Homo sapiens: one gene and its partners. Each later gene encodes a partner of the first gene's protein in a complex. Each region holds a gene or a part of one and is shown in the gene's direction. Other genes may lie near its edges.

Region 1 (8,041 bases):
TTTACTGTTTCCCTAATAAATATTTTCTTTTTAAGCAGTATCTTAATAACCTATTAAATGAGGATTTAAAAATTAGATATAGACTACTATTTTGGTAGAAAGTCAAGGAATGAACTTCTTAATATTATATGTTAAATGTATAGAAATAACCCACTAAAATATCTTTTATTCTGATACAGAAAGTGGTGGAAGAAAGCTGAATGAAAATAAAGCTTTGACTTCAAAAAAAGCAAGGTGGGTAAGAGGATCCATCGATGGGTCACATAAATTTCCTTCTTTTAGTATTAAGTCTGCTGGAGTGAATTTGATGTGCATCATTCCATTTGCAATAAAACAGAGTTAGGTGGTTCCTAGCACTCAGAACCAAGCTATCTGTTATAATCCTGCTGGTTTTACCTTATTCCTCCTCACTGTATCAATATATGAAGATATTAGTGTTATTCTCTTACAGTTTCACCAGAAAACATGACTTTTATTTTATCTCCTTCTTAATTATCTTATGAATCAGAGACAGCAGGCAAATGTGGAAAGATCATAAGCTTTGGAGTCAGACCTAAATTTGAATCTAGACTCACTGTCTAGCCTTATGACCTTAAGCAAGTTAAGCATGTTTCGTGACCTTTCTAAACTTTACTTTTTCCTGAGAATTGCGTAAAAAGTGTCCCATCTTAAAAACAAGTGTTTGATACCACACTTTATTATATCCAGCTTAAAAATTCGGCTGGGTAAGGTGACTCACACCTGTAATCCTAGCACTTTGGGAAGCCAAGGCAGACAGATTATCTGAGCCCAGGAGTTTGAGAGCAGCCTGGGCAACATGTGAAACCCTGTCCTACAAAGGACAGAAAAATTAACTGGGTGTGGCAGCACGCGCCTGTAGTCCCAGCTACTCAGGAGGCAGACGTGGGAGGATCACTTGATCCCAGGGAGGTCAAGGCTGCAGTGAGCCAGGATCGCACTACTGATCTCCAGCCTGGGTTGACAGAGTGAGAGTCTCTTTCAGAAAAAAAATTTCGTGAACCCTTTCATCTGCCATCTGATTTCTTTGCTCCCCTTCACATCAGAAGTTTTCCAAAGTCTTACCTAGACACTTTTTCAGTGTCCTTAAGTTCCTTTCCCTCCTTCAGCCACTCTAGTCATGTGTTATCCCCACAACAGCCCTGAAACTGTTCTTGTCGAGATCACAAGTGACCTTTTAGAGTGACTTCAATCTACTGGCTTTAAATTCAAGCTATATGTTATATATATATATATGTAATAATATTATTATATATATATTATAATATTATTATATATATATAACTCCCAAATTTATACCTCTGGCCTGACTTCTCTGAGCTCTAAACGTATATCTAGCAGTTTATCTGACATACCTCATTTAATGTCTAACAGGCCACTTCTTTTTCCTTCCGTCTTCTCATCATAGTAGCACCACTCTCTAATCCACTTGTTCAAGCCTAAAAGCTAGAATTCCTCACTGAGTCCTCCCTTTCCCCTACTTCCCCTATCCATCAGCAAGTTCTTTGGATCTACCTCCAAAACGTAAAATGTAACCTGAAACCACCTGCTTCTGTACATCTCACTGCTATTACCCTTTTCCAAACCACTGTTATTTCTTACTTGGAACTGTAATAACTATTGAACTATCTTCCTGCTTCTCTAGTTTCCCGCAGTTGTCTCATAGTAACGAGAGTGATCCTTTACAAAGTTCCTTTGCTTAAAATCCGCCACTGGTTTTCTTTTTCACATAGAATAAAATTTAAGCCCCCTACCATGTTCTTACAAGGTCCTCCTTAATATGACCCCTCCCACCTCTCCGGCTTCGTATTGTACCACACTGCTCCTCATTCATCATATGCTGTCTTTATTAGTTCTGCCAAGCCCACTCCCATCCAAAGAGATTTGTACTTGCTGCTGTCTCCTAGGAGTCTTCCGTTAGAGCTTACGTATCTGCCTCCTTCTTGCTGTTTGGGTCTCAGCTTCAGAGAAGTTTCCCTAATCAGCATCTAAACTAATCTCTTCTTTCCTTTTCCTCATCTCTGCCTTAGTATCCTGTTAGAATTTTCTCTATAATACTACTATTTGAAAACCTTGCTTGTTTTATTAGATTGTCTGTTTCCTTACTTACTGTTTACCTCTTCTCACTACAATATTATCTGATGAGGGCAAGGGCTTTGCCTATCATGTTCATCTTTGGTATTTAGAACAGTAAATACCATGTAATATTAAGCACTCAGTATATATTTGCTGAATGAATAAATACCTGTTTTCTGATGTCATCCCAAGGATTAGAAATAACAACAATAAAGCCTTAACTACATACAGTGCCTAGCACATAATAGCATCTTTAATGCAGATTCACACTATATATTATTGACTGACTTATTGAGGTCTTTGAGAACCATTCTGTTTTTATTGACTGAGCTATTATTTGTACAGATTTTATGCTTTTATATACTTCCAGTTCCTTTATGCTCTCAAACTTACTCTGATATCATTAAAAAGTAGCTGTAACTCTTGGGTACTCTCTTACTTTGGAAAATGTACTACAGTATTGCTTGGAATCTATGGTACTGTTATTTATAAGATGCATTGTTACTTTAAGAAAAAACTCTGCCAGTTTTAAGATTTCCAAGGTTAGGCCGGGTGCGGTGGCTCACGCCTGTAATCCCAGCACTTTGGGAGGCCGAGGCAGGCGGATCACAAGGTCAGGAGATCGAGACCATCCTGGCTAACATGGTGAAACCCTGTCTCTACTAAAAATACAAAAAAATTAGCCGGGCGTGGTGGCGGTCACCTGTAATCCCAGCTACTCGGGAGGCTGAGGCAGGAGAATGGCATGAACCTACGAGGCAGAGCTTGCAGTGAGCCGAGATTGCGCCACTGCATTCCAGCCTGGGCGACAGAGCGAGACTCCGTCTCAAAAAAAAAAAAAAAAGATTTCCAAGGTTACAATGTGTATTTTTGAATAATAAAATATGGTTTTAAGAAAAAATAGCCTCTGGAAATACATGTCCAAACAAATTGAACTTATTGAAAGGAAGAAGAGTACCTATCTTTTGTGGGGAGTAAAGTGATATTCTCAGCTGGGCGCAGTGGTTCACGCCTGTGATCCCAGCACTTTGGGAGGCCAACGCAGGCGGATCTCCTGAGGTTGGGAGTTCGAGACCAGCCTGACCAACATGGAGAAACCCCATCTCTACTAAAAATACAAAATTAGCCGGGCGTGGTAGCGCATGCCTGTAATCCCAGCTACTTGTGAGGCTGAGACAGGAGAATTGCTTGAACCTGGGAGGCAGAGGTTGCAGTAAGCCAAGATTGCGCCATTGCACTCTAGCCTGGGCGATAGAGTGAGATTCAGTCTCAAAAAAAAAAAAGTGATATTCTCTGTGTTTGGAAAAATTAACCTTTGTAAATGGGCTGTTGTACTATACCCAAGAGAAGACACCAGTTCTAGGACGGTGTTTCGTATCTAGTATATGAGGATCATTACAAAAACTCATTTTGTAAAAATGTTAGGGAAGCACATTTAAATCAGAGTATTATTGCCATTTTAGGGGAAAGTATTTCTTTTTTTCACTCCTGTCACTATAAGATGGCATTTTTATATAGTGGAAGCCCTTTTATCTAAAAGGATTGAGTCAGTTAATTAAAAATGTCAGCTAATGTAAGCAGTCATTAAAAGATACACATACTTTATTTTAAATTAAAGCGCATAACTGTAGATGCATTAATCATTTGGTATTGAAACAAAGCCTTTTGAGCATAAATCGACTGATAAGTGCTTTACATGATTGTCGTCACAAAAATCACAATCAGAATATGTTCAGTTTCTTTAAAGTAGAGCAAAAATTGATGCTTGAGGTGTGGAGTTACTTTCCTAGTGATTTTCCCCCAGTTTTCAACAGTTGTCTTACCCATACCTAATTCAATAGCAATTCATATGATTCCTAGTCATCCTAAAATAGTCACTTAGGTTATATGGAATCAGTCACTCTTTTTGCACCCACATTTCATCAGTTTCCATAATATTTATGTCACACAAATAGAATGACAGATACGACTGATATGAACACGTCAAGAATAAATACTGTACAACTGATTCTTTATAAGTATATATCTCACATGGATGGAGCAGAGCAGAGATGTACAGGCATATCAGACAGTAGCCATCTGGAATAGGCTAAACCCATCAATTGTAGAGGTTGATGGAGGGATGGAGAGCATGGATTAATCCTGTGTGTTGCGTAAGTGGGGTTATTTAAGAGTGTTTCTAGTGTAATATACAATTTTCTCTCTTTAAAAAAAATTTCTAGATTTGATCCATATGGAAAGAATAAGTTCTCCACTTGTAGAATTTGTAAAAGTTCTGTGCACCAACCAGGTTCTCATTACTGCCAGGGCTGTGCCTACAAAAAAGGTAAGTTTCTTTTAATACCGTTTTCTATTCATAAAACCGACTTCATTTGCTGCTAATTTGGTTAACAGAAAAGATGTAGCCTGTCATAAATTCTGTTAGCCAAACACTCTCTTTATCCTAAGGCAAAATAGAACCTAAAACCTGTTTATAATTAAAATTATATATATATATATATTTTTTTTTTCTTTTCTTTTCTTTCCTGATGCTGTTAAATTATGTTTTAAGCTTCAGGATTGACTTAAACCAAACAGTTGGTATTATGATTTGATTGATCACATATCTTCTTTTGTTTCAGGCATCTGTGCGATGTGTGGAAAAAAGGTTTTGGATACCAAAAACTACAAGCAAACATCTGTCTAGATGTATTGATGGAATTTCTGGCTTTCTAAATGATTTTACTTTCTGCCTTGAATTTTCAAGGCATAGATGTCAACTTACAGAATAACATGTTTTAAGATAATTAAGTTTAAACCAGAGAATTTGATTGTTACTCATTTTGCTCTCATGTTCTAAACAGCAACAGTGTAACTAGTCTTTTGTTGTAAATGGTTATTTTCCTTATAAGAATTTTAAGAACTAAGTGGCAAATTCCATGAAAATATTTCTCAGTTCTGTATGCACTTTTATTTAACATTATTCATATAATTCTCCCCCCACCACTTTATTTATAGATACTGCAAAAGTGAGAAGGAGATAATAGATACTTTGCTCTGAATTTGGCATCCAGAGTTAACATTTCTCCCCTCACTCCCTTGCTGGTGTCATAGTTATTAGAATCAGCAGCCTCTTAACTAATTGCGGTTTCATAGGATATATAAATGTTTCAAGCCATTATTGCTGAATGGTTCTTTAGTTATTAACCTAGACCCAAATCAAAGACCAGTTGGATTTATGATATTTTTTATTTGTTCTTGCAGCCAAAGTGCCAGTTTCTTTAATATGTGACCAAGAACACAAGGAGCATCCATATGGCCAAATAAATACACTGAATTTTAGAAAAACATATTACTTTGAATTCAAATTGTCATGAAAACCAGAACAGTGTTTGTCCATGTTGCATGTAATGAAAATAAATCCCTGCTCTGAGAAAAGCTCTTTGAAGCAAAAACCAAACTTTTTTTTTTTTTTTTTTACCTCCTGTCTTGCCCCCTAAAAGAAATAAATAGAGCAAACATCTTGACTCTCCCTTTTTAAAATTTGTTTGTTTTTTTTTTTTTTTTTTGGATACAAGAGCTCACTCTGTTGCCCAGGGTGGAGTGCAGAGGTATCATCAGGCTCTCTGCAGCCTCCATCTGCTGGGCTCAAGCAATTCTTCCCCCTCAGCCTCCTAAGTAGCTGGGGACTACAGGCGTGTGCCACTGTGCTCAGCTAGTTTTTATTTTTAGTAGAGATGAGGACTCACTATGTTGCCCAAGCTGTTCTCGAACTTCTGATCTCAAGCAATCCTCTGGCCTCAGCCTTCCGAAGTGCTGGGATACAGGTGTGAGCCACAGAACTTGGCCTCTCTCTTTTTTTTTTTTTTTTTTTTTTTTTTTTAACACTACAGGTTTCAAATGAATACTTTTCTTATGTTGCCTTCAGAGGTTCAGGACTTCTGCTTTTAAAACCTGCAGCCTACCGTGGGAAACCAAAAAAGCATTCCCTATTTCCAACTGCAGTATGTATAAATACATATCACTACAAAATGTATAGAAAGTGTGATGAGATACATGAATGGCATTTTTATTGGTCATAACATTTTGATGAAAAGCATTTAAAGTTTTAACTTTATAAGGCTTTTCAAAATGTGTTTTTCTGAGATACATTGTTATTTATTCATATCCAGAAAAATTACAAGGATAATACAGAATATAATAAATAATTTATCTGAGAGCAGGAAGTATCCTCTCATGCTTAATCAGTTTGGGGTTTTTAATTATAACACAGGAAACTCATAACAGGACCTGGTCAGAGAGCATCCCAGATCCATTAAAGATTGGATTCATTGACTTGGAGAAAAGTACATTTCTCAGGGATCAGCTAGAATCTGGACTTGCCTAACTCACATTTCATTTTTTTTGTTGTTGTTGTTGTTTTTATAATTTCAACTTTTATTTTAGATGTAGGGGTACATGTGCAGGTGAGTTATATGGGTATATTTTGTGATGCTGAGGTTTGGGGTACAAATGATCCTGTCACCCAGGTAGTGAGCATAGAGTCCAACAGGTGGTTTTTCACCCCTTCCCTCCCCTCTTCCCTCCAGTAGTCCCCTATGTCTGTTCTCATTTTTATGTCCATGTGTACCCATTGCTTAGTTCCCACTGATAAGTGAGAACATGCGGTCTTTGGTTTTCTGTTCCTGTGTATATTCACTATAATGACCTCCAGCTGCATCCATGTTGCTGCAAAAGACATGATTTTCATTCTTTTTTATGGCTGCATAGTATTCTGTGGTGTATATGTACCAATTTTCTTTATCCAGTCCACTATTAATGAGCATCTAGGTTGATTCTGTGTCTTTGCTGTTGTGAATAGTGCTGTGATGAATATGTGAGTGTATGTGTCTTTTTGGTAGAACAATTTATTTTCATTTGGATTTATATCCAGTCATGGGATTGCTGGTTCAAATGGTAGTTCTGTTTTAACTTCTTTGAGAAATCTCCAAACTGCTTTCACAGTGGCTGAACTAATTTGCATTTCCATCAGTGTAGGCGCATTCTACACTGCACTGGCTTCTACAGTGTTGAAGCATTCCGTTTTTCCCACAGCCTCACCAGCATCTGTTATTTTTTTGACTTTTTGATAATAGCCATTCTGACTGGTGTGAGATTGTAACTCATTGTGGTTTTGATTTGCATTTATCTGATTAGTAATGTTGAGCATTTTTTCATGTTTGTTAACCGCTTGTATGTTGTCTTTTGAGAAGTGTCTGTTCAAGTCTTTTGGCATTTTTTTAATGGGTTTTTGTTTGTGTGTGTGTATTTTTGTTTTTGTTTTTGTTTTGAGATGGAGTTTCACTGTTGTCACCCAGGCTAGAGTGCAATGGCACCATCTCAGCTCACTGCAACCTCCACCTCCCGGGTTCAAGCGATTCTCCTGCCCCAGCCTCCTGAGTTGCTGGGATTACAGGTGCCTGCCACCAAGCGTGGCTAATTTTGGTACTTTTAGTAGAGACAGGGTTTCACCATGTTGGCCAGCCTGGTCTCGAATTCCTGACCTCAGGTGATCCACCCATCTCAGCCTCCCAAAGTGCTGGGATTACAGGAGTGAGCCACCACACCTGGCCACGAGTTACTTGGTTTTCGTTTTCTGAATTGTTTTAGTTCCTTATAGATTTTGGACATTAGACCTTTTTCAGATGCACAGTTTGTGAATATTCTCTCCCATTCTGTAGGTTGTCTGTTTACTGTATTGATAGTTCCTTTTGCGGTGCAGAAGCTCTTTAGTTTGATTAGGTTCCACTTGTCAATTTTTGTTTTTGTTGCAATTGCTTTTGAGGACTTAGCCGTAAGTTCTTTCCCATAGCTGATGTCCAGATGTTATTTCGTAGGTTTTCTTCTAGGACTCTTATAGCTTGAAGTCTTACATTTAAATCTTTTTTTTTTTTTTTCCCCAAAGACAGAGTCTCCTTCTGTTGCCCAG
Region 2 (8,041 bases), about 130 Mb from region 1:
CGACTTGGCTTCCCAAAGTGTTGGTATGACAGGCGTGAGCCACCGCACCTGGCTGGTAATTCTGTTTTTAATATTTTAAGGAACCTCTATACTATTTTCATAATGGCTGTACTAATTTATATTTCTACCAACAGTGTACAAGCATTCTCTTTTCTCCATGTCCTTGGCAACACTTGCTATTTTTCATCTTTTTTATTACAGCCATTGTAACAGTTGTGAGATGTCTCATTGTGGTTTTAATTTGTATTTCTTTGATAATTGGTGAGGTTTAGCATTTCATATATATATATATGCTATTTGTACATCTTTTGAAAAATGTCTGTTCTTGTTTGCTCATTTTTTAGATTGGGTTATTTGTTTTCTTACTATTGAGTTGAATGCCTAATGTGTTTTGGATATTAACCCCTTATCAGGTGTATGTTTGCAAATGTTTTCTCCCATTCTGTAGGTCATCTCTTCACTCTGTTGATATTTTCCTGTGCTGTGCAGAAGCATTCTAGTTTTATGTAATCCCATTTGTCTCTTTTTGCTTTTGTTGCCTGTGCTTTAGGGGTCATATCCAAAAAATCATTAACCATACCAGTGTCTCAGAGCTTTTCCTTTGTATTTTTCTTTTAGAAACTTATAGTAGTTTCACAGTTTCAGGTCTAATGTTTAAGTCTTTAATCTGTTTTGCGTTGATGTTTGTATATGCTGTGGGACTAAGGTCTATTTTCATTCTTCTGCATCTGGGTATTCTGTTTTCTTGGCACCATTTATTGAAGACACTGTCTTTTCCCTATTGTGTCTTCTTAGCATCTTTGTCGAAAATCAGTTGACTGCCAATGTCTGGATTTATCTCTGGTTTCTTTGTTCTCTGTAGCTCTATGTGTCTGTTTTTATACTATTGTCATTCTGTTTTGATTACTATAACTTTGTAGCAGATTCCAGGTCAGGGAGTGTGATGCCTCCAGCTTTGTTCTTTTTGTTCAAGATTGCTGTGGCTATTTGGAGTTTTTTGTGGTTCCATGTGAGTTTTAGGATTGTTTTTTCTATTTCTGTGAAAAACGTAACTGGAATTTTGATAGGGATTGAGTCCAGTCTGTATGTTGCTTTGGGTACTGTGGACATTTTAACATATTATTTCAGTCCATGGACATGGGATGTCATGCATGTTCTTCCATTTTTTCATCAGCAATTTGTAGTTTTTAGTGTACAGCTCTTTCATCTCCATGGTTAGATTTATTCCTAACTTTTTTTTTCATAGCTATTGTAAATGGGATGTTTTCTTGATTTTTCAGAAAGATAGTTCATTGTAAGCATATGGAAGCACTACTGATTTTTGTATGTTGATTTTGTGTCTGCAGCTTTACTAAATTAGTTTATTAGTTCTAACAATTTTTTGGTTAAGTCTTTAGGGTTTTCTATATTAAGATCCTGTTTACAGCAAACAGGCTTCTCTATTTTTGATTTGGATACCTTTTATTTCTTTCTCTTGCCTAATGGCTCTGGCTAGGACTTCTAGTACTATGTTGAATAGAATTGGAAAGAGTAGGCACCCTTTTCTTATTCCTGATCCTAGAGGAAAAGCTTTCAGCTTGTCACCGTTGAGTATATTAGCTATGGGTTCGTCATATATGGCCTTTATTCCAATTTAATTTCTAGTGAGAGTGAAATGGGAATGTGAGAGAAATGGGAAAGATGAGCAATACATTTTAGAAAAGCAGAAGGGAATCACCGTATTCTATAAGAATATGTGGCTTTAAGCAATTGGTGATATTTAAAAGGGTCAGAAAATAGAATTACTCCATGTTGTATTTATTATTTTAAAATCTGAGGGCTGTTTTCTCATGTCATTTTACATGACTATGATTCATCTTTAAAAAAATATGGAATGTAGTGGCCAGGCACGGTCGCTGTAATCCTAGCCTGTAATCCTAGCACTTTGGGAGCCTGAGGCAAGAGGACCACTTGAGTCCAGGAGTTGCCTGGGCAACATTGTGAAAACCTGTCTCTATGAAAAATACAAAAATTAGCTGGGCGTGGTGGCACACAGTAGTCCCAGCTCCTCCGGAGGCTGAGGTGGGAGGATTGCTTGAGCCCAGGAGGCAGAGCTTCCAGTGAGCCAAGATCGCCCCACTGCACTCCTGCCTGGGTGACAGAGTGAGACCCTGTCTCTCCCCAACCTCTCCAAAAAAGGTGGGGGTATAAAGTAGGAGCAGCAAGTTTTAGAGGTAGAGAAAGTTGATCAAGAGACAGCCATTATCCTCAAAAGTGGGCAGAGATCTCTCCAATTTACTTAGAAAAAAAGTAGACTTAGAAGAGTTATGGATTGCTAAAGATACTATAATTTATAAGCTGCATCCTTTTTCTTATTTTCCACTCTAGTGATTCAGTTGTCATATCTAAAACTACCATTAAGACTTTTTTTCCTGACTTTTGGCAATCCAATAATTACTTGTCATTACATTGCTAAAAGTAACTTTAGTTTGCCCAATTTGCCTTTCCCCTTCCTCATCAAATGCATATAGAAACATGACCATTTTCAAAATGAGTTACAAGTAGGTACCTTTTAATTTCCTGTTACTGTTTTAGCATTAATCTGGCATTGCTTTTAATTCGTTTCTTTATTTCTCACAGGAGTATTCCACATCTTCATTTTATTCTACTAAAATTAGACTTAAAGATTTAAACCCAAATTTGTCTTTAATCACAAAATTAATTTTATAAAAATGACAGATCTGTAGTAGAAACTTTATGTTATCTACCTTTTATACTTTTGAAGCAGGTCTGCTTTTGTTTACTTTTTAAAAAATGTTAAAGAAATTATTTATATGAACCTTTTTAAGGTTCAAATTCATGATTAGATATAACAGACTGGGAAAAGAGGAATTATATGTAGAGAGAAAAATTTTGGTGATAAATTGCAGTAAAATCTTCATTCTATTTTACAAAATCACAAATTCACATTTCGTTTTCTGAAAAACAATTTTTATTTATTAGTAAGACAAACTCTTTCCAGTTAGTTCTGATTTAGATTTTATGATTACTTATAGAGAAATATTACTGAATTTTAATAGTTTTTGTTTCGTTTAATTAATTTGGTGATTATTGTTGACTCCTTTTTAAATTCTTTTTTAAACAGAGGACTGCTGTCCAGGTCTGTTTTGCAAGCACAGAGTGCTTCTCCAATCTTCACCCATGTTTATGCAGCATTAGTGGCAATTATCAACTCAAAATTTCCACAAATTGGAGAATTAATCCTCAAAAGGTTAATTCTTAATTTTCGAAAAGGCTATCGAAGAAATGACAAGGTATATATGAATGGCTTGTAAGTAGAATGATACATAGGAACAAACTAACAAACCAGTATCAACAAAAGTAAGCAAGGTTGATTTTGACACAGCTACATAACATAATGCTTTTTAAAAACTGTCTTTCATGAGAACTTCTTTGATCTGTTAAATATCCCTGGCCACTATTGATGAGCCACAAAAATGATGGCTATAACTGTAGAACTATAACTATTTAACCAGAAGGGATACTCTTTCATGTGTTTTATTTTGTAACTTTCTTATAATGTAAAAATTATACTTGTGTGGTACATGTTTTAAATAGATGATGTTAGTAGGCCATAGATTATGTAAATAAATGAAAATTGGGTTTAGTTTATAGGTTAACTTTCCACCTTTATTTTTCAGCAACTTTGCCTGACTGCTTCAAAATTTGTGGCGCATCTTATTAACCAAAATGTGGTAAGTAATTATCTTCAATACTTGGTCCCATTCAGTGGCATTAGACCAGAGGGTTGATGCCACTTCACTGATACCTCTCTATTTTTGCTTTGCTTTATAGTCCTTGGGATAAAAATGTTGGATGATATTTTCATTTTAAAACTATAATAAATATATTTAATGTTCTTTTTTTTTTTCTTTTTTTGAGATGGAGTCTCACTCTGTCGCCCAGGCTGGAGTGCAGTGGCACAATCTTGGCTCACTGCAAGCTCTGCCTCCTGGGTTCACACCATTCTCCTGCCTCAGCCTCCCGAGTAGCTGGGACTACGGGCACCTGCCACCACGCCCGGCTAGTTTTTTTTGTATTTTTAGTAGAGACGGGGTTTCACCATGTTAGCCAGGATGGTCTCGATCTCCTGAACTCGTGATCCACCAGCCTCGGCCTCCCAAAGTGTTGAGATTACAGGTGTGAGCCACCACGCCTGGCCATATTTAATATTCTTTAATATAACACTTTGATGCTGATCAAAACACTTTAGATATTTATCAAATTAATCTGACTTAATACTGTACATGGTTACTTGACTGCAAACCATTCCTTTGAAGAACCATTCCCTTCATTTTTATAAAACAATAAAGTTGGTATCTCCTCCACTTCATTCCCTGCTGTTCATGAGAATCTAATAAATATCTGATATTCTACAAAAACCTCTATTCCTTGCAACCACACAGGTATAGTCATATATTTTTAGAATCACTTGATAGAATAGAGTTGATCGATTTTAATCTGTTTCAAATGCAGGTAATTTTATCATGCTGTTATTCAGTTTGTGTTTATTTTATATTCATTATTTGATGGTTTTGATTTAGCTTTTATTTAACCATGAAAATGCTAAAATTGTCCTTGCTCATACTCAAAAGTTTCCTTCAGATATATATTATCATTTCCAATTTAATATCATGTATAACAGGAAGAATTTTAAAGTCATGCTTAGTCTTATTTCACTAATATTAAATATTTTGATTCTTATTTACATGAAAATTCTTTCACTCTTACAAATCTTTTAGATTTTGACCTAATTAGTCATCATATTATTACAGTGATAACTTGCTACTTAAGACCATGGAAACTTAATTTCACATCTGTAACCAGAGATATATTTCCGTTTTTAAATGTGTATTACACTTAGACTAGAGATTTTTGGCATTGCCATGAAACACTCGATATGATAAATTTTTTGCATCTTCCAGCTGTGGTACAGGGCAGTATTTTCTTGTCACTGACCTAAGACTGTTTGACACCCCTCCTCCCCTAGTAAAAAGAAGTAGTGGGTGTCTTTGATGTTGTGCACAGCTGGAAGAAGATATCTCCTGAGTTGAGATTTAGACTTCTTTCCTCACCATCTTAAATCACTGTCTGACTTTAGAAAGGCATATGTATGGTGTTTTAAACATTCTTTGTTGTTCGTTTTCTTCTCTTAGCAAACTTCTCAATAGAATTTTATTCCCACTCTTCCTGGCATTGTTTATAAATGTCAGTTTTTGAACGTGGCCAGTAATAGTTTGATTTAATTTTTTAAAAAAAGATAGACTATTCAAAACTGTTGTGTTCCAGAAGTTGTTAAGATATTTTGTGATAAAATTAGTATTCATGTAACTTAAGGACTATTTGTGTCTAATAGAGTTGCTGATAGAATGAATTGGGAAATGTATATAAAGAATTGTGATCATGGAGAAGGGTATTATAAATCATATTACTATTTCTTATGTAGTAATTATGAAAATAATTACCTTATTAGAAAGTAGTATATGATTTTTAACATATTTTATCTATGACACTTTCCGTACATAATGGCTAAGAATATTTCTTCTGAAGATAATTCAAATAGTTGTATTCAGCATAGAAAATTAAGATTTTTGAAACAGTCATCTGAAAATTCTTAGTAGACAGATAATAAAAGTGATAGAAAAATTGTATCCCATATTTGGAGTATTTCCATGTGCTTTATAAAACTTTGCCCATCATATGTGCAATATAATTATTGTAAACAGATTTACTAATTTTTAGAAATTATAAAAATAATTTAATGTATGTAAAAGCATTTTGTTTCTTCCTTGTATATGTATTTTATTTAAGGCACACGAAGTATTATGCTTAGAGATGCTCACTTTGCTCCTGGAAAGACCAACAGATGATAGCGTTGAAGTAGCTATTGGTTTTCTTAAGGAATGTGGCCTCAAATTAACACAAGTGTCACCAAGAGGAATCAATGGTAAGTGTACATTCATAGTTTGATGTTAAGTTTTTATTATATTTATTGCTTATTTTATTGTCTTTTCTTTCTGTTAACTTTTAGCTATATTTGAACGCCTTCGAAACATTCTGCATGAGTCTGAAATTGACAAAAGAGTTCAATATATGATTGAAGTGATGTTTGCTGTACGGAAAGATGGATTCAAGGACCACCCCATTATCCTAGAAGGTCTTGATTTGGTGGAAGAAGATGATCAATTCACTCATATGCTCCCTCTGGAGGATGACTATAATCCAGAAGATGTTCTTAGTAAGTCCGGGGCATGTTAGTTGGAAAGAGGCTTACCAACAAATGTAAATATAGAAAATAAACATTAACTTTTACATTTTTTTTAGATGTTTTCAAGATGGATCCTAATTTTATGGAGAATGAAGAGAAGTACAAAGCTATTAAGAAAGGTATGTAAAATTTTATAAAATAATTTAGTTTGGATAAGTAGAAGCAATTTAAGTAGTTACGTAATACTGATAGCAAATATTTAGAGATCCCCACCTAATGAATCGCTGCTCTTATAAAGTTATTCTCTTAGCTGTTTCCTCGGGCATTATTTTTTTCCTGGTGCTTGCCCAGGGTTTTTTACTTCATTCTGAATTACTTACCCCATTGTTCTTTCCTCTTTCCCTCTAAACTATGCAACACTTACGTCTCACCCATCTTAAGAAATATTCATAGATTAGTGGTGGCCTTTATTTAGCTTCTCTACCATTTACATTCTGTGCCACCCAGTTTAGTATTCAATTAAGTGGTATACTTTATTGTAAAGTGCTATACTTTATTGTTTCTTGAGGTCAGGTTAATATCCTTCTGGTAGGATGAATCATAGTATTGGTGCCTCTCTGATAAAATAAATTGATCATTTTCATTTGTACATCATTGGTATATTGTAAGTACTAACTTTGGACAGGTTTTGATGTGTAATTTATCTTTGACATTACTAGCTGAGTGACCTGTAGCAAGTTACTTGTTTGTTGGAAGACTAAATGTTACCTTTCTATGGAAGGATATATAAAACACAGTGTTGTGTATTATCACCTACAATGATAGCTATTATTAGTTACTATTTTCACATTTGTATTATTTTCCTCCTAAAGCTAACACTCAGGCCTACTTACATAATAATTTTATGGGCTTATTTCTCTTGAGTTGTAATTTTACTGGAGAAGTATTTATTGCTGTGGAAGCAATAAAATTTACCTTTGTATTAAACCCCAAAAGTTTGTATTAAAAGCTCTCTGATTATAATAGAAATGTAAAGAGTTGGTTAGCTTTGCAAAATCTTTTATCAGGCTAACAGCACCATTGGGCAAAATGTAATTTTAGTTTTTGTCATTTGTTTGCTTTTAACATAAAGACCAGCCTTATGTAGTCTCATATACAGAGAAAGCAGAAACCTAGAACTCTGTCTCTGTCTGCATTCCATTGTTCAGTAGTGCTTAGAAGTAGAAGGTTGAAATGAAAAGTAAAATTGGGAGAAATCTTCCATTCCTCTGCATTATCCTAAAAACCTGTTATAATAATGAGTTTCTCTTCTTAGATGCTGATTTCCTAGGAGCTTTTCACTGTAATATGCCAGATTCTTTTTTTCTGTTATAATTTCATTTCCAAACAGAGAACTCCATAGATCCATTTTGCCTTCTTTTCTTATGAACCTCTTTTCCTACAGTCTCCCTGAAAAATGCCAAATGTTTTTTGTGAAATTCTTAGATACACCTGATTTGATTTCTTTCTTTTTTAAACTTGAGAATTCTCTATCCATTTCTTTAGCATCTAGGCAATTGGCCAATGCCTGGAAAGTAGTACTTTCTTTTATTATAGCAGTTCTCAAATTCTTTCGTCTCAGGATCCCTTTACACTCTTGAAAATTATTGGCAACTCCAAAGAGCTTCTTTTTATGTGGGTTGTATCTATTGCTATTTACTATATTAAAGGTTAAAACAATATAAAAGAATATTTATTAAATTATTTCAGAATAATAGCAAACCTAGTATATGTTAACATAAATTACATATTTTT
Region 3 (8,041 bases), on another chromosome or scaffold:
CGAATGTAAGCAAAAGAACAGATATGGTGGGGAAATGCCCTTGGAAATTTTTGATTCTTTTAAATACTACTTAAAATCATACTAGAAACTTTTTCTACGTGAATGGGCAAACTTAAGCTAAGTGTTTGTTTTAAAGTATTTATGGATACGTTCTTATGTTTATAATTTCTAAATAGTCACAAACGAAAAATGGCAATCAAGCTTCGTAATGAGTATGGTCCTGTGTTGCATATGCCTACTTCAAAAGAAAATCTTAAAGAGAAGGGTCCTCAGAATGCAACGGATTCATATGTTCATAAACAGTACCCTGCCAATCAAGGTGAGTATGGTATTATCAGAAATGTCAGACTTATATGTGAATTTTAAAAACAGAAAAATAAAATATGTTATTTTTGCCCCTCCTGGCAGGACTTATTGTGGTCGTACAGTATTTAATGGCCGTACCTGTATTATAATGGAAGTTTTGATCCTCATGGGAATACTGTTGATGACTTTTTTCTTATAGGAAATAAAAATGGTAGTATAATGATGGCAGAGATTCTTAGAGTGTGGAGAAGGTCACAGTAGAGATTAAAGGAAAAAATTGGAGAATATTCTTAACCTGTGAGGACACCATCTATCTTGTCTGTAATTCAGAAAGATGAAATTAAATACTGAAATCTTAATAAGTAAAGAGAATTCAAGATTCCACAGGAAACCATTTGCTTGGAAGAAATACCAGAGTGGATTGTCACTTGATAGGAGGGCTTCTTTGTATACCATTGCTATATAGCAAATGGTCAAGGACATGGTTTACAGAGATCAAAGCAAAAGTGATCAACTTCCCTTATTTCTGAGGCTTGACTTTAGTTGAGAAAATTTGATAGATCCAGTTGAAAACTTAATATTACTTGATACATTTAAAGAGATGATAACTTTTGTATAAGGTAAATTCACTACTGTTGATTTTTTTTGTGTTTTTTTAGGACAAGAAGTTGAATACTTTGTGGCAGGTACACATCCATACCCACCAGGACCTGGTTAGTGAGCTGTTATATATTGAAAATGTCTTAAAAATGTCACATATATTTTCACTAACGAGCCAATAATGAGATTCTTGTTGCCTATAAAATGCAAGATAAGCTCAGTAGCCAAGCATCCATGCATAGCTTTGTAGGTAATAATGAATACTCATATGCCTTCATTCAGCAAACATTCTTAAGTACGTATAATTTTTCAGGCAATGTGCTAGGAATTCAAAGACAGTAAAACTGTTGCAGGCCTAGTTATTTATTATCTGGTGGTTTAGGCAGACATGTAAATATCACTAAGCTTGTAAAAATGATGGAAATGTTAGAAGCAGTATCTGAGAAACATGTCCTCTGTCTGTATTAAGGCATTGGTCCACAGATGGAGTGGCCAGTGTAACAGGGTAGAGGACAAAAGGCTTAGTATGTAAAGAAAGTACAGGGAAATTGGGTGTTTCTAGTTTTAGTAAGTTACATCCACTCTTGGAAACATTCTGTTAGTATTTGAGGAACTGCTTAATACTGACTTGAAACTAATACCCAAATATAATGGAAATTAACTTTACTATTCTGGGCTGCTTTAATACCATGTGGGCTGTGATCAAATCAAATTTGAGTTACGTGTTATTAAGCAGTATTTATTGTAGAAATTAAAAACAAAGATGAGCAAAACTTAATCAAATTTGTATAATATCACTGCCTGGAGATAATAAACATTTGGTGTATGTTTTCCTTCATCATTTTATTTTAAGTGCATGTAAATGAATAATACACAGCTACTAAAAGAAGTTGATTTTTCATTTTAATAGGGGTTGCTTTGACAGCAGATACTAAGATCCAGAGAATGCCAAGTGAATCAGCTGCACAGTCCTTAGCGGTGGCATTACCTTTGCAGACCAAGTATGAAATATTATAATTACAAAGATCTTAAAAGCATATTTCACTGTTCACATTTTTTCTTTTTAAAATTTCTTTATAACTATTATATGACATTTTCCTTTATCAGGACTTTATAACAATTTAAAATAAAGGGTTAGTTTTGCAGAATACATGACTGGAGGCATTAATTACTTTGAAAATATTATTTCTTTTGCCCCAGGGCTGATGCAAATCGTACTGCCCCTAGTGGAAGTGAATACCGACATCCTGGGGCTTCTGACCGTCCACAGCCTACAGCGATGAATTCAGTAAGTTTTTCTGCATCAAATAGCAGGTTTCTAACTTTTGGAACATGTTGCCATATTTCCCTCTTCTTTGGAATTATTAAGATAAATAGCAGCCTGAGCTAGTCATTCATATTTCATAGCCCTAAAACTCAAGTTGGTAGTAAATTAACGTATTTTTTGGAATTTAATTCTGTTATTTGTCTACTTGTACATTGTGTGTAATATATATTTTGATAAAGATAATGTGATGTTGGTATTTATTGCCCACTATTAAAAATGCAAGGAGAGTTTTTCTGAAACTTGTGTTAGTATGTATTGAATATGAAAGTCTTTTTTTTTTTATTAAATTTTAAGTTGGTGTGTACAGTTATCTTGAGTGCTGTTAGTGTTGTACTATTCATGGGCTATACAACTAGTCTTATAAATGAGCATTTAGAAATAAGTTTATCTGTTTGTAAGTAAATGGCAACTGGTATTAGTATGGTAGAAATAGTTGTTGAATTTTCTATAGTTATTTTATTGATTTATCTGCAGCATAATAAAATATGCTGCCACTTGAAATAAGTGCTGGTTTTGCTTCTCAGCTCATTATGCAATTGATTTGACTTTATGAAGTGAATGAATGTGTAACTGCCACATCTCCTTTCCTCCTTTATTCCATTCAGAGCACGTCTTCTGTCCAGGCTCTCTACCCTCCTTATGAGGGTATAATTTAAGCTTCTTGAGGGCAGGAACTTTATGGGCTTATTTATGTTTTGGATGACTAGATGACTGCTAACAACAGATGGTATATCAGGCAGTATACCTGTTAAAATAGTATTTAAATATTGTATTAGAAGATAAATAGAAGGAACTGTCAGTCTTTGCTATATTAAACCAATAATGTTAAAATATGACAATGAAAGACAGTGGCACTAATACACTTAAAATGACTTTAATATTGGGAGCTTACATGGAGCATTTACTACTTATTAAATCTTTGTAGTAACCCTATGAAATAGGCACTATTCTTCCCATTTTACAGGTGAGCCACATAGAGGTTACATGATTGTTACCTAATGTCAAACAGCTAGTAATTGGCCAAGCTGGGTTTTGAACCCGTACACAGTGATGTGTGCTCTTAAGTCTAATGCTCTGCCTGTCTGTGATTTTATAATTGCTTTTTTAAGTTAACATACAGAAAATTGTATTTCTTCATTTATGGAAAAATTCTTTTGTAAGTTCCCTCTTTCCATTTCCATTTCTGAATTGATATCATGAAGCCTTAGGTATGATGTCTTTAATAATAATAATGTCTCTTCTATGTCTAGATTGTCATGGAGACTGGCAATACCAAGAACTCTGCACTGATGGCTAAAAAAGCCCCTACAATGCCAAAACCCCAGTGGCACCCACCGTGGAAACTCTACAGGGTGAGTGACTCTGCATTTATTTTATTATGTGAACCATGATTGCTTTGTAGTTGACAAGCACTGAAGAATAGAATAAGGAGGAAAAAGAGTGAATATGAAAAGCTGGTAGAGCGATCTGAGGTGGATTGAGAAGAGTCGTAGGGAGTATCTTAAAAGATCTCTTGGGAAGGTGACTTCCTTAAGCAAAAGTTATACTTTTATATAAAATAGTATGAAATGTCAAGATAAAGCTACTAAATATGGATGGCAGACTAAATAAATGTAGAAAAAGTGTTCAAAGTATTTAGTTTGAAGGTGAAGGGGAAAAACACCATATAAAGAAATTTATTTGGGCCTACCAGTTACTCTTTCAACTACAATAAATGAAAATGATTCAGAGTGTATCATCTAAAAGAAAATGGACATGCATGCTAACTTCAGCAGCACATACACTAAAATTGGAATGGTACGGAGAAGATGAGCATGGCCCTTCCACAAGGATAACACAGATTCGTGAAGTGTTCCATACTGTTTATTTTGCATTGCTTGCCTATACCAAAATATCTCATGTACTCCATAAATACATTTCTACTGTGTACCCACAAAAATTAAAAACAGAAAATTTTAAAAAAGAAAATGTACATAGTAGGAAATGTACAGCTACACATAATTTAATATGTATCTTAAAAATTTCATTTTTCAAATGATTGTACAGTAAGAGCCTTTTTGTTTGACATACAGCTCTAATGAATTGTAATAGATGTATTGATTTGGGTAACCACTACCACAATTAGGATATAGATGTTACACCACCTCAAAAAACACCCTTGTGCTATTCGTTTGTAGTTACACTTTCCTTCACCTCTGACAATCACTGATCTGTTTTCTATCACTATAGTTGTCTTATTTTTTTTCAATAATTTCAGTTCTAATTTATTTTTAATTTTTATGGCTAACATAATAGATGTGCATATTTATGGGCTACATATCAAATTTGATACAAGCATACAGTGTGTAGGCCAGGCATGGTGGCTCATGCCTATAATCCCAGTGCTTTGGGAGGCCTAGGCAAGCGCATCTCTTGAGCCTAGGAGTTCAGTACCAGCCTGGGCAACACAACAAAACCCCGCCTCTACAAAAAAATACAAAAATTGGCTATGTGTAGTGGAGCACACCTGTAGTCCCAGCTACTCCAGAGGCTGAAGTGGGAGGATCACTTGGGCTCAGGAGGCGGAGGTTGCAGTGAGCCAAGATCACGCCACTGCACTCCAGCCTGGGCGACAGAGTGACACCCTATCTCAAAACAAAAAACAAAGAAAAACATACAGTGTGTAATGATCAAATCACGGTAATTGGGATATTATTTCTTTGTATTAGGAACATTCCAATTTTACTCTTCTAGTTATTTTGAAATATACAATAAATTACTCTTAACTGTAGTCACTCTATTGTGCTACCAAGCTAACTAGCCAAACTAGTGCTACCAAACTAGCTAACCAAACTAGTGCTACCAAACACTAAATCTTACTCCCTTTATCTATTTTTGTACCCGTGATCCACCTCTTCTTTATCTTCTGCCTCCCCACTATTCTTCCCAACCTCTGGTAGCCATCATTCAACTCTGAAGATCATTTATTTTTTAGCTCCCGTATATGAGAGAGAGCACGCAATATTTGTTTTTCTGTGCCTGGCTTATTTCACTTAACATAGTATCTTCCAGTTCCATCCATGTTGTTGCAAATAACAGAATTTCATTCTTTTTTATGGCTGAATAGTATTCCATTGTGTGTATGTACCACATTTTATTTATCCATTCACCTCATGATGGACACTTAGGTTGGTTTAGCTGTGTCTTTTTGACTATGTCATATAAATGGAATCATACAATATGTACTTTTTGAGACTGGCTTCCTTCACACAGCTTAATACTTTGTGAGTCATTGAAGTTGTTGCAAGTATTAATAATGTATTCCTTTTTATTACTGAGTAGTTTACATTATATAGATGAGCCACAATTTGTGTTAACTATTAACTCACTGAAGATAATTTCATATTATTGTAAAATGTAATAGTCATTATCTTTTATGATTTGAAGATGGGAGGGCAATTCAAACTCGGGCTGCAGTTAAACTTAAATACATTTTAACTTCTACGTTGGCCTGCCCATTCTACTTTGTTTTATACAGGTTATCAGTGGGCATCTTGGCTGGGTTCGATGTATTGCTGTGGAACCTGGAAATCAGTGGTTTGTTACTGGATCTGCTGACAGAACTATAAAGGTAATAATGAAGGAAGAAAAAATAAACATGACTTTGTGTTTGTCATGTAAGTTTAATCAGTTATTATTTCCTGTGGCAGGAATTGCTATTGCAGTTCCTCTGTTATTTTAGACCTGAATAAGGAGTAAAATTTATCATTTATACTAATAAGTGTTCTAAATAAATATCTGTTTGAAAAGTGCTATTTAAACCACTTTTTCTTTACCTACTGAATACCTACCACTAATTCCTTTATACTTACATTGTTCTCTCCAACTGGTTACAAAATTAAGAGCATGCTCATTCATAGAAAATGTGGAAAATATAGAGAATTAGGAAAGTACATAGACCTGTATATAATCCTACCATTGTTAGATATTTGGATAAGTTTCGTTTTAGTATTTATTTCTGTAAGTATCAATACCTTCACTTCTAAGCTCTTTTCCTGTGTGTGTATCTTTTAAAAAATCATTCTTAGTATGTAATTTTGTATCTTGCTTTTTTCACTTAACGTTGTATCAAAGGCATATTCCTGTGAAAAATTTACCATCTTTTAAAGTGGTTGCATAATATTATATCATTTAGATAGTCTGTAATCTGTTTTCCTATTACTGGACAGTAGAGTTTTTAGTCTGATTTTCACCATTACAAGTAATGCTGTTAAGTTTTGTATATAAGACTTTTTCTGTATTTTAAATTATTTTGTTATGGTAGAGTTCCATAAATGGAATAAATGGGTCAAATATTTTTGAAGCTGATACCCAAAGTACAAATTACTTTCCAAATGGGTGAATCGATACTTGCAGTGTATGAGAGGATCCTTTTCAGCACATTGGTTGTACATTCCTTTACAAATATCTAATATGGTAAGCAAAAATGGATACTTAATCTTTTTAAAAAACTTTGTATGAAATTTCTAATGAGTGTGAACTTTTTCATATCTGTATTTGCTGCTTTTAGGATTTCTTTAAGTTGTTGCCAGCCTCAGTTAATTTAATACCATACTTTTCTTACTGTTATTATCAAAGATATCATTTATATAACAAGAAGGTTAACCTTTTGTCATCTAATTGCAAATATTTTTCCAGTTTGAGCATGCCAGTTTTTTTCTTGCTTTTATTTGGAGGGGAGTCATTTTGCAAAATTTTTTATTTTTACGTATTTGTTATCTTTTTCCTTTTGTCTTTGAAAGCTCAGTTTTAATAATCAGGTTTCTAAAATTTTGTTTTGCAGTAACCAGTGAAAGAAAAAAATAAATATTCTTTGATTGCAGATCTGGGACTTGGCTAGTGGCAAATTAAAACTGTCATTGACTGGGCATATTAGTACTGTGCGGGGCGTGATAGTAAGCACAAGGAGCCCATATCTGTTCTCTTGTGGAGAAGACAAACAAGTGAAATGCTGGGATCTCGAATACAATAAGGTAAGTTTGGAGTTAAGGATTTAAAACATTGTGAACTACTATTTATCTTTCTAATTCTAGAAGTTTTAACTTTCCTGCTTTGTCTTTAGGTTATACGGCATTATCATGGACATTTAAGTGCAGTGTATGGTTTGGATTTGCACCCGACAATCGATGTGTTGGTAACCTGTAGTCGAGATTCAACTGCACGGGTAAATGGGATAGAGTTGTGTATTTATCTGTAAATATATTGCATCTTGTAGGGTGCACTTTCGGTTTCAGTGTCTTCAATTGATTGATAGAGAATTAAAGATAGCTGTCTTGAGTCATCAATATCCTAGTCCCTAAGTTTCTTAACTTGCATTTTTTTCCACCTTAGTCTTCAGTTGTATGGCCTCACCATGTTAGTGTTATTAGTGCCCTGCCCCTGAAATGTGATATTCTCACGTTCCATTCTGTAACAACTATTGTCCATTAGTTCTTTCATTCAGTAGTCTTAAAAAGTAGTCCCATCATACTCATTCTTAGATTTTCAGTACCCTGATCTTTTAGCTTTTTAGAATTCTTGCAAGTTGTCTCCTATTTATATTCGTCCTCCAGTTTGTAAATCATTATCTTTCACTTAAGCATTTTCTTTATTATATTCAGGCACTAGTTATGTAGTAAATTTTCAGCCTTGAATTGATCCAGTTATCTTCTTGAGATAATGAATACCTATTCTCTTTCCTAATATGTCTATTGTGTTTTTATAGATTTGGGATGTGAGAACTAAAGCCAGTGTACACACATTATCTGGACATACAAATGCAGTTGCTAC

What was found.
Region 2: CRIPT (region 1) and CWC22 share a complex: the UniProt entries of both Homo sapiens proteins name them as parts of the minor spliceosome.
Region 3: CRIPT (region 1) and PLRG1 share a complex: the UniProt entries of both Homo sapiens proteins name them as parts of the minor spliceosome.

The regions. Positions count from the first base shown.
Region 1 is NC_000002.12:46,619,448-46,627,488, forward strand, and holds part of CRIPT (cysteine-rich PDZ-binding protein), read left to right. Parts: intron 1-179; coding exon 180-234; intron 235-4,316; coding exon 4,317-4,420; intron 4,421-4,715; coding exon 4,716-4,780; 3' UTR 4,781-8,041. UniProt on the Homo sapiens protein: As a component of the minor spliceosome, involved in the splicing of U12-type introns in pre-mRNAs. Involved in the cytoskeletal anchoring of DLG4 in excitatory synapses.
Region 2 is NC_000002.12:179,968,886-179,976,926, reverse strand, and holds part of CWC22 (pre-mRNA-splicing factor CWC22 homolog), read left to right. Parts: intron 1-3,124; coding exon 3,125-3,293; intron 3,294-3,680; coding exon 3,681-3,734; intron 3,735-5,850; coding exon 5,851-5,986; intron 5,987-6,070; coding exon 6,071-6,277; intron 6,278-6,363; coding exon 6,364-6,426; intron 6,427-8,041. UniProt on the Homo sapiens protein: Required for pre-mRNA splicing as component of the spliceosome. As a component of the minor spliceosome, involved in the splicing of U12-type introns in pre-mRNAs. Promotes exon-junction complex (EJC) assembly.
Region 3 is NC_000004.12:154,539,989-154,548,029, reverse strand, and holds part of PLRG1 (pleiotropic regulator 1), read left to right. Parts: intron 1-176; coding exon 177-319; intron 320-965; coding exon 966-1,019; intron 1,020-1,816; coding exon 1,817-1,907; intron 1,908-2,106; coding exon 2,107-2,194; intron 2,195-3,483; coding exon 3,484-3,585; intron 3,586-5,750; coding exon 5,751-5,843; intron 5,844-7,095; coding exon 7,096-7,245; intron 7,246-7,334; coding exon 7,335-7,436; intron 7,437-7,976; coding exon 7,977-8,041. UniProt on the Homo sapiens protein: Involved in pre-mRNA splicing as component of the spliceosome. Component of the PRP19-CDC5L complex that forms an integral part of the spliceosome and is required for activating pre-mRNA splicing.